Linked DNA regions of Homo sapiens: all the other regions are linked to region 2. The links come from fine-mapping of genetic effects on gene expression. A gene starts in region 2. Each other region holds a variant in brackets. All regions are shown on one strand. Distances are between the middles of the regions.

Region 1 (5,223 bases), 93 kb after region 2:
CTCAGAAATCCCTTTGTCCCACACCTGGTGTGAGTTACAGGTGTGGGAGGCAGAGGAGCTGCTGCCTGGTGATAATAGAATTCCTGTCGTCACTTGCTCTGATGCCACTGACCTGCTGCAGTCTGGGTCCACTCTCTGCCCTGGCTATCAGTTCAGAACTATTCCTTCCCCAGGCCCAAGGGGCTAAAAATATCCCCCGAATAATGGCTGTCAGTATAAGTAAGGTGCATTCCCTAAGGCCCCCTCATTAAGGGCTGTTCGATAGGAGTTAAAGCTGATGGGCAATTTGTATGAACAAGAGACATAACATCCGGGTGGATGAAAGTGCTATGCCAGGATGGTACCAGTGACAAGATGATACTAACTAAGGAAAGTGACTGGAGAGCGAGCATGGACCAGGCAGGGCAAGATCCTGTAAGGTCACTGGGGCAAACATCTTTGGAGGCATCTGCTCAGCTCATGGTGATCCCTTCCTCAGCATTTACCCATGCTCCAGCCTGGCCGCATGGGTAAACGCTCAGCATCTGTGCACAGCCAGTTAGATCAAGCTGCACCTGCTCAGAGTCTCTTTTCCAGAAAACTGAAACTGAGGTAAAAAGCTTTTAATTTAGTCTAGGCTGTGTGCAGGAACTGAGGAAACATGAGTTAGGAAACGGAAACTGCTTTTGCAGTGTAAACGTGGGAAATGCCTGGGTATAAGAGAGTGGAGAAAGACTGGGTGGGTGGATGGACAGGTGGGTGGGTGAAGGAGAAGAATGAAGCAGAAACATAGAGTGAGGCAGAGACAAGAGATCAGGGAGGGTGAGTGAGCCAAGAGCAAAACTGCCAGGGTTCCTCATGTCTTTCTGGTTTCAGATCAGCCGAGAGAGCTGGCCAACTCCTGCCCTTGGGTTGCATGAGACATCCGTTGTACCTCTGAATCTTTATTTTTAGTTCTTTTTTTTGCATAGCCTTAAGAAAGTTTTCTTACTACCTGAAGTAAATTTTCTGCTACCAGGAGAATTTCAGCTAAAATACACACAATTTTTGTTTTTCTTTTTGAGACAGGGTCTTGCTCTGTCACCCAGGCTGGAGGGCAGTGGCAGGATCATGGCTCACTGCAGCGCTGAACTTCTGGGCTTAAGTGATCCTTCCAACCTCAGCCTCCTGTGCGGCTGGGACCACAGGTTTGTGCCACCACATCTGGCTAATTTTTTGTATAGACTGGGTATCTTTGTGTTGCACAGGCTGGTCTTGAACTCCTAGGCTCAAGCAATCCTACCTCGGCCTCCCAAAGTGCTGGGATTACAGGCGTGAGCAACCATGCATGGCACACACACCCATTTTTAAGGGGTAAGAAGTTTCCTTATTTATTTATAAATCTGGGATAATAACATCTATAACTACAGTGATCATGTAAAGATTAAACCAGAAGCCAAGTGCCTCATACAGTGCCAAGCCCAGAAAAGAATCTCAATCAATAGAAGCTATTGGTACCACTACATTATATAAAGAGGAGATTTTGTGCCCAGTGCCCAAGTCCCTGGTATGACTAAGAGGAAGCCCAGGGCAGTGGCGACACCTGGGCTCTGGGCCAGGATGCTTGAGGTCCAAGAGCAACTCCTGCTGTGCTGTATTTAGCTTCTCTCTCACAAAACTCACTTCTGCAAAATGGGGATAATAAGACAACCCAACTCACAGGTTTGTGAGGATTAAATGATTTAAGCTAAGGGCTTTGAATAGTGTCTGGCATACCATAAGTGAAATGCTCAAGAAATGTTAGCAACTATTATTATCCTCATCATCATGAGTGCATCCACTGCAGCTTCAGCCGCCATGGCCGTCTGCTCCCAGGGCTCCAAAGGGCCTGATGCATGAGGCATAGGAAGGCCCCTTGGCTGTGGCTGTGGCACACGTGGCAGTGAGCTGCATGCACTGGGTCTCGAGGCCTCCTTCACAGACCTCCAAGACTGGCGGAGGTACACACACACTCACAAGTGGACAGGAATGAAACAGCAGCCGAAACAGCAACTGCAGCAGCTCCCCCAACCCTCAGTGTGGGACAAGGGTATAGAGGGTCGAAGGAGGTGGAAGGAGTCCTAGCCCAGCTGTTGGGACACAGGGATGTTTCCCGATGCTATATGGTAATGGCCTTGACCGGGTAAGGACTTTTCTTTCTGGGAAATGCTTGCTAAGCAAGGGGTTACAAAACTAGATTTGATAACCAAAACATACTAACAAAGGTTTCAGTTCTGATAAGTTTTCTAACACTGACTGGTAATTCATATTTTCTATTTTAGGGGCTTTATAATAATTATTATTGCAAAACAAATGCCCTCCTTATGTACTAAAAACATATTACTGTAAGCGAGACTTTTTATAGCAGTTATTCTTCCTTTCTATAAAGTTGATTCAATCTCAGAACCAGATTGCAAAGATTTGTCTCCATTTAAAGAAAAAATCTGTTGTCTCTATGATTTAAAGACTGCATTTGAAGATGTATCATTCCAGAAACCAAGGCAGTAGGAAATAGCCACCATACTCAGAATTATAGTGAGGATGCAGATTACCTTTTGGAAATAATTCAAAGATAGACATAACACGTAAAAGTTATGAAAAATGTAGCTATTGCTTTAAGGCAATGTTAAGCTGGGAGCCACATCTATTCTTACTTACCCAAGTTCTAAGAACTGCCTTGGAGTATTTCTACATGAATAACAAGCTCATGCTGTATGAAAAGCTGCAGAGTGCTATTGACGGCTGGGGGAAAGGAGAAGGAAATCTCCGTAACAGA[T/C]AGCAGTGTTGAACTTCTCCTAAGTACCGTTGCTTTATTATTTTTCTCAGACAAAGTCATCTACAGGGTGAGCAGGGAGTTCAAATAAACAGGAAACAGTTACTGACGTCAAAGAGGTCACAGTGGAAAAGCACCCGCATGAGGAAATCTGATTGCACCATGTCTGAACTGGAAATAACTTGAATTTAACCACATTAAGAAAGATTACAAAGGCTTCAAGGAAGAAACAATGAGAAGGAGTCTAATGGCTGCATTTTTTTTTTGAACTTATCATTTTGCACAGCCCAGAAGATGTCAGAGGTTAATTCAATCACCCAGCAACCCCTGTGTCAAGCCCACAGGCAAGATACATCCTGTCTGAGCTGAGACTAGTCTTTGGGAAGGTGAAATATGTCCTGAATATAACAAAGCCTTAGGACTTTGCATTTCAAACCTAGAGGGACACACAGCTCTTTTCAAAGACCAAGTGTTTTCCTAGTAATCTGGATGCATTATAGCCATCTCTCATAATGAAACCTGACAAGGCTTACTGGCATATATACAGTAGACCAGGGAAACAAAGAGGAAATCTACCTTGCAGTTTAACACACTGTGAAACATCCAGGCCAGGATGTTCTTTAAAGCATAAATAAGTGGTAACATATGATCAGGGGTACAGCAGAGTCAGAGCACAAGTCCCCTCTTCCTGATGGAACCTCCTTTGGCATTTCTGGTCCACATACAGCTTTCCAGTATCATTGTGTAGGGCTGGGATGGATCTGTGCACTTGGTCTTCTTTTCCATGGGGGACCGGAAACCCTTGAAGGCAGAGCCCAGATACTAAGTGAGATATCTTTAATAGCACCAAGCACAGTGCCTGGCCAATTGTGAGGGTTAATAAATGCTTCAAGAGTGAACATAATAGGAACCATTTTTGTCTCCTGGTAAAATTTAAAATGGAACTTTAGAAGAGCTGGAACAAACTGCCAAGATTCGTTTCACCCAACCATTTTACAGAAGCAAAGGGCAAAGAAGTGAAGTACCTTGCCCATAGTTAAAACAGTTTGTGGAAGAGTTAAGTAGGACAATCAGGTCTGCTGATGCTATATTTTCCTTTATAAAGCTTTGATTTTTCTATTTATAAAACTAATTACATATCCATAGTTCAAATGTAATTACAAAGTAAATAGATAGAAAATTGAGAAGAAAATAAAGAAAATTCAAATAAAATCACCCTAATCCTGACAACCAGATATAGAAGTCTCAAGCTTTTAGCTTCCAAAGAACTGGAGATTTCAGGGCAAATAAGAAGTTTTCAAGGTAATGTTAACTAGATTTAATTTTTCCTTTGTGTCCTAATTATACTTAACATTTTATAGCATGTTTTAAAAACAGAAAGGAAAAAGTAAAAAACATACACTTCTCTTTTCATTTATATTGCATATTATTTCCTGATATAATTAGTCATCAAGACCATGATTTTTTTAACAGTTGCATGCTATTCCCGATGCCAGTTCTATGAAGTCCTACAATTAGCTTGACTTCTAATTAGGTTAATGAAAATAAAAGGACACAGCTTTTATAGTCTCTATGCCATGATAAAGATCATTTTTTTAGCCTGGTAAAGCAGGCATCTCTCAGTGGAGATGATTGCTAACTGGGCACGGTGTTTTAATTGATTGGTCAATCATTTAGACATCACTAACCTTTAGAGCACCCCCTAGTGGTCGAGAAGAACGTTTGAACAAACCTCCTAGTCAAAAACTATCCACATTTGAAATACACTAAAACTTAAGAGTCACAAAGAAGATATCTTGGATGATTATCTACTTTTTAAAAAAGGTTTAGCAACTTAACAAAAGCATCCACAATAGGATTTCTTCAAGTCATTATTTCACATAGTGAAATTCTCTTTATAAAGCTTTTGGTTTAAGCATCAAATAGGATATTTATGGACTTAGTTTGTATAGGGCTTGTAGGATAAAGAGTAAAAATACCATTTCATTTATTTAGATCATTTTTCATGATGGAGATCCCTAAACTGTGTAAACTTTTAAGACAACCACAATTTCATTTCTCCCTCTGATCTATGTATGAATTCGACACTTATGCCATGTGGGAAGATATTTTGGGTTATAGTTGATTAGACACTTTGCCCAGTTAGAGAAGTAGAGACTATGGCCAAGAATATGCCATATCTGCCTCAAGGTGATGCCTGGGAATCTACTGGCTGAGAATTCATTTCCTCTCCCCCTGTCTGCAGTGCTGATGCACGGGCCGAAGTTTCTGTGTGGAATGTGCCTTTCACATGCTATTCTGAGTTTGATTCCTCCACTGTAGCCATGACAAACTCTTCTCTGGTCCTCTGGCTGGGGAACAAAATCTGTTCAAGCAAATGACATGCCCACAATTTCTTCCCAAACTATTAAAAAATTTTTTTAAAATTATACTTTAAGTTCTAGGGTACATGT
Region 2 (5,223 bases):
AATGTCACTTCCCCTAAGAAGCGTTCCCTGAGGCTTCCCCTCCCCATACACGTTAGATCAGATAAAGCTCTTGTAATATTCTTGTAGAACATCCTATTCTTTTGCTTCAGGGCCTTTATCACAATTGATAATTATATACTTACTTTTACTTATTGAATTAATTCCCAGTCTCTCTCAGTAGATTACATGCAGTGTCTGTTTCACTTGCCATTGTATCTCTAATGCCTACTACAAGTGCCTGGCATGTAGCAGACACAACTGCTTGTGAATGAATGAATGGTCTCAGTGATTCTGTAAGGATGAAGGTGATGTAGAGTAGTAGATGGCAGCTCTACTCTGGAAGTCCAGAATACTGCTCTGATTCACACCTGCAAGCCTTATTGGTCAATGACTACTGATATTCCAGCCACCCAAACAACTGCTTTCGGAGAAGCATTAATACCTGCGAATAAAACAAATCTATTCGTTTCATACATTTGGTTCAGAACACTAGGAGAATTTGAGAAGAGACGAGCCAGCCCCAAGCTGTCCTTGTTTCTTTTATTAAGAATAGGCCATGATTTGAGCACATTCTACTACTTGCCTCACTTCAGCCTATTGATGGGGGAAAAGTGAGAGTCTGTGTGTGGGGACTCTGGCTTGGCAGTGAGATCTAACACAGAAAGATCCTGAAGAAATATGCTGACAATGGGGTTTTATCTCTTCAATGCACTGGAGACAAAATCCCTGCTTTTAAAAACAACACTCATACAGAGCCAAGGATGTCCCAGAGTGAACAGTCCTAACCCTTTCTCAGCCTGCCTAAGAGCTCGTTGGTTTCAGAAGGATGAGCCAAGGACTGCTACTTAGAGACTACTGTCTAGGTCAACCCAACTGGCATAAGTAAAGCACCTACTGTTTATAGTAGGAGGCTGCAAGATAACAGGAGATGCAGACTATTGAAGGCTACTGATCTATCTGTGTAGACAGGCAAGAATAAAACAACTGGAGAAGAAATCCAGGATTACACAAAAAGAAGAGCGTGATGGTATGGTAGACTACTCCAGAACAGTGAATTTCCCCTGCATTAAGGATGAGATCCCTATGAATTGGGATCATTCAGGAAGTCTTCTTGGAGAAGAAAAGTTTGAGCATATGGGGAAAAAAAGTTGGATTGGCAAAGAGCTGAGCTGTCAGTAGCTGGGTCCTTAGTAAGTAGGCTGCATGGAGCTGGGAGTTATGCTAAAGGAGTTGTAATTTGGGATGCCTCTAATTAACCATTTTGGGAAAAATATAATAAATCCCTTTGTAGCATCTATAATAAACTGCCCAATATCTATGTGGTGGGGAAAAAGTTTTATTCTACGTTTCACGTGGATGGTGATAACACTAGGTAATCTCAGCATCTTTCTTATTCTCTTGCTAATCCAGGATTCTAAGTAATAATCACTTTGTTCTACAACCTGAATCTAGCCCTTGTACTGTGCAGTTTTTTTCTACACTTATTTTTCCTGTTGTCTGAATCAATCTCCATGGAAGCATAAGTTTTACTGAGTTTCAACCAGCTGTGTCCACCGAGGTAAAGATGGTAAAAATAAAAGGCACAGGGCATATATACCACAGCAGCAGTTACTTCCCACAAGGAACCAGAGATTGGAAGTGAAGCTAAAACATTTTCAGCTACGATAGCATCTCTTTCAAGGTGAGCCATTTCCCCAGGGAGAGTTTCCAGCTCTTAGCAAAGGCAGAACAATAAAACATCAAGGATGTCTTTCTAAGGCTGCAAACAGAATAGCCAATACCTTGAAGCTGATCTGCTTCAGAGTCCTTTAAAAGCCAGGACAGCAACAAAGTGCCCACATTACATTTTCTACAAGCTTGCTAAGCATCTCTTTTCCTAAACCACAAAACCCGAGACATTTCTACAGAACAGGCAGAAAGGGAAGTCCTGGGAGATCAGGGCCCTGTCTCAGCAGGCATCACTCCAGCCTGTCTTTTCCCGAGTGGTTTTCTGCACTTCTCTTCCATCTTTTCCCCTCTGTCCCACACTGGAAGTCACTAGTCTGTGCCCTCCTTACCTCCCATGGTTTCTGCACCTTCATTTCCAAAGGCAAGTGAAAACAGTGCCAGGCTGCGCACATGGGTTACTCCAGGGACTTCTCTTCCCGTTTCCCCTAAAGCATTTGACAGTTAGATCTTGGAACTGAGTCCAGCAGCACTGAGGTCAGAGAGATGGCTAAAGCTAAAAGCAAACTGGATGCTGTTCAGGAGGTTCTCCTTTGTCATTTTTATCTCCAAATAGAAGACCTCTGTTTTCCCAGAAGATTAAATAGTAGAAAAGAAGTAGCCCAAGGTGGGTGACTCTGCAAACAGGTGGGTGAGGTCTCTAGTTGAGTGAGGGGGTGTCTGTGGGTTGTGGGTTCTTCTTATGAGCAGAGCTTGGAGGAATTTGTTCTATTTGTTGTGGTTTTCCCAGGGGGAAGTCGGGGGTGGCTGGGACTCTAATGATCATTATCAGAAGACTTTGGATTAGGCCTCTGAAACTTTAAGATGTGGATCCTCTCGCAATCATGTTAAAATGCAGATCTCCTTTCAATAGGTCTGGGACAGAGCCTGGCTTTTCTATAAAGCTTCTGGTGATGGGATGTCGCTGGTTCTCAGCCACAATTTGAGTAGCAAGAGGTTAGCTTTTCTACTTACTGCCTTCATATCCCCAGTTGGGCTATGTCGTTTTATCAAAACAATGTGGTAAGAGTGAGCGCCAATTACTAGCCTGTTGAATCATCCATTGTTAGAGCTGTTTCTTTGAGGTACATTTAAGAGGCCCCTCCCTGTGGTTCCCCATTGCACAAGAAGCCCATTTGCCAGGCAATACCTTGGGCAAGCAAGCCACTGTGCAAAATTGCATTGGCTCTTCCTGCTGCCAGCCAGGCGGCTGCTGGTTGACGTTGGAGTTGTACAGTTTATGTGATAGTGATGACAGCGCTGGCTCTGAAGGGTACTGAAGATTTTGAAGGGGTACTTCGCTGCAGCAGCTTCACCTCTCACTTTTGTTTACCCACCCCCGAGGCTTGTGGGAGAGAAGGATCAGGCAGAGCTCTGCACGTGCCATGCCAGGGGTGGAGGAATTATATTTTTATTTTTTGCTTTCTCTGCTACAGGACATACCATGCCTTTTACAGATATTTATAGGACAATTTCCCTCCTGAGAGTGCCCAAGCATGGGGGATGGTGAGGAAGATGACTGAAGGAGAAAGCAGGAAAAGGGGGTGTCTGCATGTATGAGGATTGGAAGGTGGGGAAAACCCTTCGTGTTTGGTTCAGCCTTCAAGAAAGAGGAGGGGTTGACTAGATTACAGATGTTAAACCAGGGGTCTGTGGTTCAAACCAGCAACTCTCTGCCCTTGTAAGCTGTATCTGGCTGGTGTGTTAATTTGTCTAGGGTAAGAGCCCCTAGGTTTCAACAGATTGTCCTAGAGTCAATGATACACAAAAGGTTAATCAGCCTCATTTCCAATCAGGATCATCTGCAAGTCCCTCCCAGAGCAGATATTTGGAGCACTAGGCTTCTAGAAGCAGCAGACATCAAGTTCGGGCCATGGGATTAGGGTGGACAGGGCAGCCACTTGGAATCATTTTCTACCAGAGGCAGAAGAGGCTCAGCTAGCAACAGCCCCATTTTACAGAGCAGAAGCCGAGCTGCAGTCAATTCAGTGATTCCTCCTAAAGTAGGGAGTCAGAAGCCGAGCCTGGACTGGAACCTCGGCCTCCTAGCACACAGAGCACAGGTCTACATTGGGGAAAAGCCCCTTCAATCTGGCAGTTGCCTGGAAAGCGCAAGACATTTGCGGCCAGAGCGCCAGGAGCCCAGCTGGTTATTTCTAGCTTCCTGAATGTCAAAAATACAGGCCGCTTCTCAAAGCAGCCTCCACTTGTCAGACCAAATCAAGGCATCAGCGCGTCAAGCAGGCGAATCCTCTGCCCCAGGCACCAGCCTGGGGGCGCACGCCCTGCCTCCGCCCCGCCCCACACGGCGCACCTGACCGGTTCCCGCGGTGCGCCTAACCGCGGGCGGGCGAGCGCTGCACCCACGCACCCGGGCGTCGCTCCCACCTGCACCCCGGCGTCACGCCTGAGCGCAATCTGCAGCCTTCACCCACCTGGGCGGCTGCCTGGCTTTGTTTAGAGTTGGAGTCAGCCCGGCAGCCTGCCTTGGCCGAGTGTGACTAGGGAGCTGGTCTCTGACCCTAGCGGCAGATTGGGCAGGACACACTGCCTTCTCTCTGGTCTCTTTTGGAATCTCCCACTTTCACCTGCTTTTCTTCTTAGCAAAACTGCCACCCCTGCCCCTACCCCAATTCCTCGATAGATCTAAATCAACGGGCTTGTTTGTGCCTCTGCAGAACCAATCCAGTTTTACAGGAACAAAAACAAACCCCAGTCCTGAGCGTCTGTTGGTTTCCCGTCCCAACTTCTGTTCATTCAACAAACATGGGAGCATCTACTGGCTAGGCTTTGGACACAACAGACTGAACTCTACCCCAGGGAACTGGCAGCCCCCAGGGGAAAAGAGAAGCGGATGTTTTTAGGCTGTAATTTAACGGTCGCAGGAGAGTTTGCTAGGGAACATGGGGGCAGGGAATGAGCATTGCAGGCAGAGAGGACAGGCTGGTGAAAGAACACCGCAGGCGGTAGGATCTGCAGGAAGGCAGGGTGGCCGGTGGGCACAGAGAGATGAGGGCAAGTAGCAGTGATGGGCTGAGGAGGAGCCAGGACTCAGCCAGAGAAAGGAGAATTGACTTCATCCTGAGAACAATGCAGGGCCTTGGAAGGTTTAAACAGGGAAGTGACCAATCCAATTTGCTTTCTTAGTGGGACTGGAGAGCGCAAGGCCTGTCAGTCCCAGCACAGGGGCAGCAAGCGGCAGCACCGCTGAAAGTAGCAGCATTTTCAAGGACAGGGGTCATGTTCTCCCACTTGGGGATCAAATTACCTAAGTTTTCTTCTATTTCCACCCCCACGCTGCTGCCTTATTCCTATCCCTGGCCCCACTGTGACTGGTTTGGCCTTCTGCCTCCATTGGCCCTTGCCTAGCCTTTAGGTAAAATGCTAGGTTGACCAGGTGTCCAGAAAAAAAAAAGAATGGATAAAGAAAATATGGTGTGTGTGTGTGTGTGTGTGTGTGTGTGTGTGTGTGTGTATTTAACGATGGAATACAACTCAGCCATAAAAAAGACTAAAATC
Region 3 (5,223 bases), 9.7 kb after region 2:
GGAGTGGGTACATTACAAAAGGATTGGGAGAGGGGGAGTGGTAAAAACTCCACAGCTCACATTCATTGACTCAGCTCATCTTTCAAGGCCCCAGTTCTCCTGAGTCATCAGTGAGCATGGCCTTGCTTTCATAGTCACTAAGGCTGAATGTGGGTCATTGAGATCTAAACTGGTGTTTAAATGTAACCGCACAGAGGTGAGTCAGACACACACAAGGAGAAAAAGAGCAAAAGAGAGAGAGAAGAAAGAAGGAGACTTAGCTCTCTCTTAAGTGGGGGTGAAAATCCAGGAGCGAATCTGAAATGATCCACCTCTCCAAATCCGTCCACTGTTTAATTGGCTCCATGTAGCTATAGGGAAATTGAGGCATAACTGCTGTGTCCACTAGCCCAAAGCTGTTCCAGGGACAGCAGCAACCTCAGGAGGAGGCCAGAGATTGGCCAATGGAAAGGCAGAAAGCAGGGACTCTCCACCCAGGTGGAGGCACCACAGGGCCCGTGGAGGGAATGGACAGCTGGCATTACGGTCCCCCTACCTTTTCCCAAGACTCTTCCAGCTGACCTACTAAGGCTGCCCCTTGACCTTGAGTACAAATGGCACTCATGCCCAAACAGCCGCTTGACCAGAGCCAACCGACAACCTCCTGTGAGTTTCTCAGCCCCAGGCTGGATCTGCAGGTAAGAGACAGACATTATGTTGAGGCAAATGTAACCCATGCCAAGCAGTGTGTAGAGATTTCTACCTAGCTTTATTGTTGTGAACTCCAGACAAGAGACTTAGAAACCATGTATGATTTTCTACATCAAAAGCCTGAGTCTGAGGCTTAGGGGTCTCTCATCCCTTTTCCAACTCCCTTTGTGTGTTGCGGGGTGGGGGGTGGGGCGGAATGGAGAGTCTGCCATGGAGTCCCCACCTCTGTCCCTTCCAGAAGAGCCTGTATATGGCTAGTGGGCATTTCCCTCCCTGGAGAGGAGGTGGGGGAGGCCCTTCATGTGCTTCCTGGAGCCACAAGGAAAGAGGAGGCTGCTGATTCACCAGCAGCTGCTTCCTGGAATGGCAGTTCCGGGCTGGCAGGCAAACAGTATTTTTCCAAGGTGATCTAGGGCTGTTACAACATTCCCGCTCTGCCCCCATCAGACCTTCCTGTAAGTCAAACCAGAAAGTTACCCAGACCACGCATTCCTGAGCAGTCAAGCACAAGATTCCAGACACAGTGTTTCCAACATGTCTCGCTATCTCTCCTGGGACCTGGGATCCAGTCATCCCCACAGCCCCTGTGCTTCCTCAGCCAAGGCCATGCATTTGTCGCACTGGCCATGGAGTCACATGGAAGCCACTGTGTGGCTCCAAGTCAGCTGGGAGGGGAAGGCCTGCCCTGATTCCCCTAATGGTCTGCTGAGAAAGAGCAGAGCCCTGAGCTAGCTTTGTCCCTGCGTTTCACAAAGCCACTTTCTCTGGTCCTGCCCAGCTTTCTGAGACAGAAAGCTACCATGTCCCAGACTGAATCAGTCTCACTTTTTTTTTTTTTTTCCCCAGAAATAAGGCACAGGTTTGGAAGTGCCTCTGTTTGACCCTGGTGTTTGGTTCTCTCCCTCACATACAGGGAACATGAAGGAGAACCCACCTCTGCTGCTTTTGAAGTGCAGTGGCTTTCACTTGGAATGGACATCTTTACGGGTGGCACTGGGGGCTGTGCAGAGAGGACCAGGGAGAAATTCCAGACTTCTCAGGTTCTGCCTCTGAGACAGACAGTGGTGGGAAACACAAACAATAAAAATCCTTGGTTCCACTTTCCTCATCCCTTCCGGGCAAATGGAATCAAATGAGGGTGAGGGTGGCTGGGGAATAAAGCAGGGTGAGTGAAGAGATGGGGGACTGCTCTTAGAAGCAGTGTCTGAACTCCACCCCCTCCAGGATGAACTGGAAAGTGCTTCTTCTCCTCCCTCCCTTGACTGATGGCTATGGGAACTTTAGATGGGGAAATACGGATATACTGATCTCTCAACCAAATGTAATTTGTATTAAGAATTAAGAGTTCACAAGTTATTCTCTGTCTCTCTCTCTTTTTTTTTTTTTAAAGAAACAGCCTTGCCCTGTCACCCAGGCTGGAGTGCTGTGGTGCTATCATAGCTCACTGCAGCCTCAAAATCCTGGGCTTAAGTGATTCTCCCACCTCAGCCTCCTGAGCAGCTAGTACTACAGGCACACACTACCATAACTGACCAATTTTTCTGTTTTCTGAAGAGATGAGGTTTCGCTCTGTTGACTAGACTGATGTCAAATTCTTGGCCTAACGTGATTTTCTCCCTGGGCCTCCCAAAGTGCTGAGATTAGGAGTGTGAGCCAATGCACCCAGCCAACTTATCCTTTTTTATCTTCATCACAATCTTATGAGGTGGGTATCGTTATTAGTATTGTCATTTAATAGAGGAAGAGAACAAGGATTGGGAGCGTTTAACAGCCGGCCCAGGATGAATGCGTCAAGTTTCAAATCCATGTCTCCTGATTCCAAGTCCATATTTCTCACAGTCCACGTTATATACTCAGCAGACGCTGTTGACAGGCTCTCTGAATCCAGGAGGCAGCTCTGAGCCTCAGGAAGTAAGTTGCTAGAATCCCAGTTAGGGTCCTAATATTCTAAGAGATACAGACCTAACAGAGAAGTGTGCTGTGCCTGTGGCTTTGTGGCAGGGTTTGTCTACAATAAATAAACACATGTTGTGTTCACAGGGCTTAACTCAGTGCTGTAACAGGAGCTTCAGAACTGACAGGGCAAACAGTCCTCTTCAGTTAAGTATCACTGGCCATGTCTTACCCTCTCAGATAAGTTGCAAA[T/A]GCTTTTTTAACTCTCTCCCTCCCACCTACTATTATAGAACCATTTCTCAAAGCTTAATTCAAGACTTTATTTCTGTTTTCCAATAGTTATACACCTTATCTCTAAGAATAACCATTTTTAATGCCTTTGATTTTTCCCACTGAGCTCTTTGCCCCACGATTGTCCAGTAGCTGGGAATGGAGAGTGAGTCTGCACTTTTGATTACCTGATAAACAGCGATCCTTCCTCCTCCCCGATCCCACACTCCCGGAACCCTGACTTGGTTCTCTATCCTTGTCCTTCAGGAGAGAATGAACCTCTCTCCAGCCCCCGGGGGCTAAGGTTTTGTCCGAGACTTAGACTCTCAGCCATTGGTTCGGTATTCTGACTGCGCATTGGAACCATCTAGGGGGCGTTAAAAATCCCACTAACGCCAACAGGGGCTCCAGGGCTCCCTCAGGAGCTGTGGCTTGGCTGTCATTTTTCCCTTGCCAAGTGATTGGTGTTAGGGATGGTCATGTGACGCTAAACTGGCCAATGGGGTACGAGGATGCGAGGCTGCGAAGCTTCTGGGAATGTTTTCCACAGCTAAAAGCAAAAAAGCTGCAATTCAGGGGTGTTTTGTTTTTCTCCCTGGAAGTTGTTCTCTATGTGCCCCAAAGGAAGGAGCTTAATTTAGTTAGCAATCTGTGGACATTATCGCATTTGATCCTCACACTACCCTTTGAGGTAGTTAATATTTTGGTTTTAGTTATTAATTTACAGACAAGGAAACTAAGGTTTCTTAATTTTACAGACAAGGAAACTAAGGTTCACGGAAGTTTCAGTATCTCCACACCCCCTTCAATGACAACAGCTGAGCAGAGTCAGGGTGACCCTGGTCCTGCCTGGTTCCAAAGACCATGATTTTCTCACTATTTCCCTATTTGCAAGGTTGTGCTGGAAAGCTGTCTAAATAATAAAACTAATAAAAGTCCTGGCCGGATGCAGTGGCTCATGCCTGTAATCCCAGCACTTTGGGAGGCCCAGGTAAGAAGGATCGCTTGAGGCTAAGAGAGTTCAAGACCAGCCTGAGTTGACAGCAATAGCTTATCTCTACAAAAGCAAAAAAAAAAAAAAAAAAAAAAAAAAAAAATTAGCTGGGCATGGTGCAGGAGCCTGTAGTTCCAGCTACTCAGGAGGCTGAGGTGGGAGGATCACTTGAGTCCAGGAAATCCAGGCCTTTGAGGCTACATTGAGCTAGGCTCACACCACTGCACTCCAGCCTGGGCAACAGAGTGAGATCCAGTCTCAAAAAAAAAAAAAAAAAAAAAAGGCCTGACTTTTAACACTTACCAATGTCCATGGTGTAAATATTCCCACAATAACCAATTTTAAGCTACCACTGTGAGCTCTCCGAGCACTAACTTGAAAGAGATGTGCACAATCAGCTCTCATGAGCCAGTGTGATCCAACTCCAGCCAACCATTGGAAAAGGGGGCACGTGCTCAAACCCGGTCTTTGATGCTAAAAACATGTTTTCCTTCATCCCCCTACCGGGGCTTTCTCTGAACACACACCTCCCCAGAGCAGATCTTTACACTGGCATTCAGCACTGTTAGGAAAGGTGCTCAGCTCTAGTTCCTAGAGGGCAGAATAAGGATAATGAGGGACAAATCAGTAGGGGTGAACTTCAGAGGTTTCCTAATGCCTCCAGGTTGCTAATGATGCAAGCATGAGCCCCAAAGGACTACTTATCATTCTGCATAAGAGTGGGCCGAGAGAGCCCTTGCCGTTCGTTTGATCTCATTGCCATCTGAGCTGCTATGCCTTTTGTACACCCTGCTGAGCCCCCAGAAATGCTATGCACAGATTCATGACTGTGTGGTACAGTGAAAGCAGCAGGGGCCTGGCATGTGGCCAGTGGAAACATGATGGTAAGCCAACTCAGGCCTGCCCCAGTGGGCCCCCTAGGGCAAACGCCACAATAATAGTGTGCTTGCTAAGCCCATTCCACACTGTGGTACGCCAGCCTCTCAGGGTTGGGAGAGCCCTCCGGTCCAGGTCCATCATCCCCAACGAGGGTTGTAGACTGAAGATGTCCAGTGATCTTCCCTCCAAAGGAAGTCTATTACATATTTAGGGACCTTGGTGGAAAAGTTCATTTTTATGCTATGCCATAACACATTCTATGACTCCTGCTACAGCCTGAGGTGCTCCTAGTTCTAACCCTGGGAGCCATATGTTGTCAGACTGGTCCCTCCACACATGGCACGCCTATCAGTCAGGATAGGCTAGGTTATGCTGCAGGGACAAACACCGATCGTAATCTCAGCGCCATGAAACAGCAGTAATAAAAACCATAACAGCAACTAGTATTTCTTGCTCATTCAAAATGTCCATTGAGGGTAAGCTAGGGGTCCTATTCA

Direction of the effects. Alleles are on the strand shown, and positions count from the first base shown. SD is a standard deviation of normalised expression in the study named. Not every link is listed here.
In carriers of allele T in region 3, the expression in fibroblasts of the gene that starts at base 2,165 in region 2 tends to be higher than with A alone (moderate effect, 0.40 SD a copy in GTEx).

The links.
Region 1: its variant is fine-mapped to the expression of LINC01303 in whole blood (TOPMed, PIP above 0.99).
Region 3: its variant is fine-mapped to the expression of LINC01303 in fibroblasts (GTEx, PIP 0.96).

The regions. Positions count from the first base shown.
Region 1 is chr14:61,474,678-61,479,900 of GRCh38, reverse strand. All of the region lies in intron 9 of PRKCH (protein kinase C eta), which reads right to left. Among named protein-coding and RNA genes, the nearest start is that of PRKCH-AS2, 68 kb to the left of the region's middle. RefSeq lists enhancers at 177-346, 944-1,113, 2,191-2,250, 2,884-2,963, 3,074-3,173 and a cis regulatory region at 1,028. The variant T/C (reference allele first, on the strand shown) is at 2,774.
Region 2 is chr14:61,567,595-61,572,817 of GRCh38, reverse strand. It overlaps LINC01303 (long intergenic non-protein coding RNA 1303), which reads left to right and starts at 2,165. Exons shown (of 5, transcript NR_110416.1): 1 at 2,165-2,332; 2 at 3,141-3,274. It overlaps LINC03033 (long intergenic non-protein coding RNA 3033), which reads right to left and starts at 2,278. Exons shown (of 3, transcript NR_039985.1): 1 at 2,058-2,278. RefSeq lists silencers at 2,988-3,180, 3,921-4,080, 4,161-4,230 and enhancers at 3,572-4,071, 4,072-4,573.
Region 3 is chr14:61,557,915-61,563,137 of GRCh38, reverse strand. LINC01303 (long intergenic non-protein coding RNA 1303) reads left to right here. Exons shown (of 5, transcript NR_110416.1): 4 at 1-2,395. Among named protein-coding and RNA genes, the nearest start is that of LINC03033, 10 kb to the left of the region's middle. RefSeq lists an enhancer at 352-1,551. The variant T/A (reference allele first, on the strand shown) is at 2,836.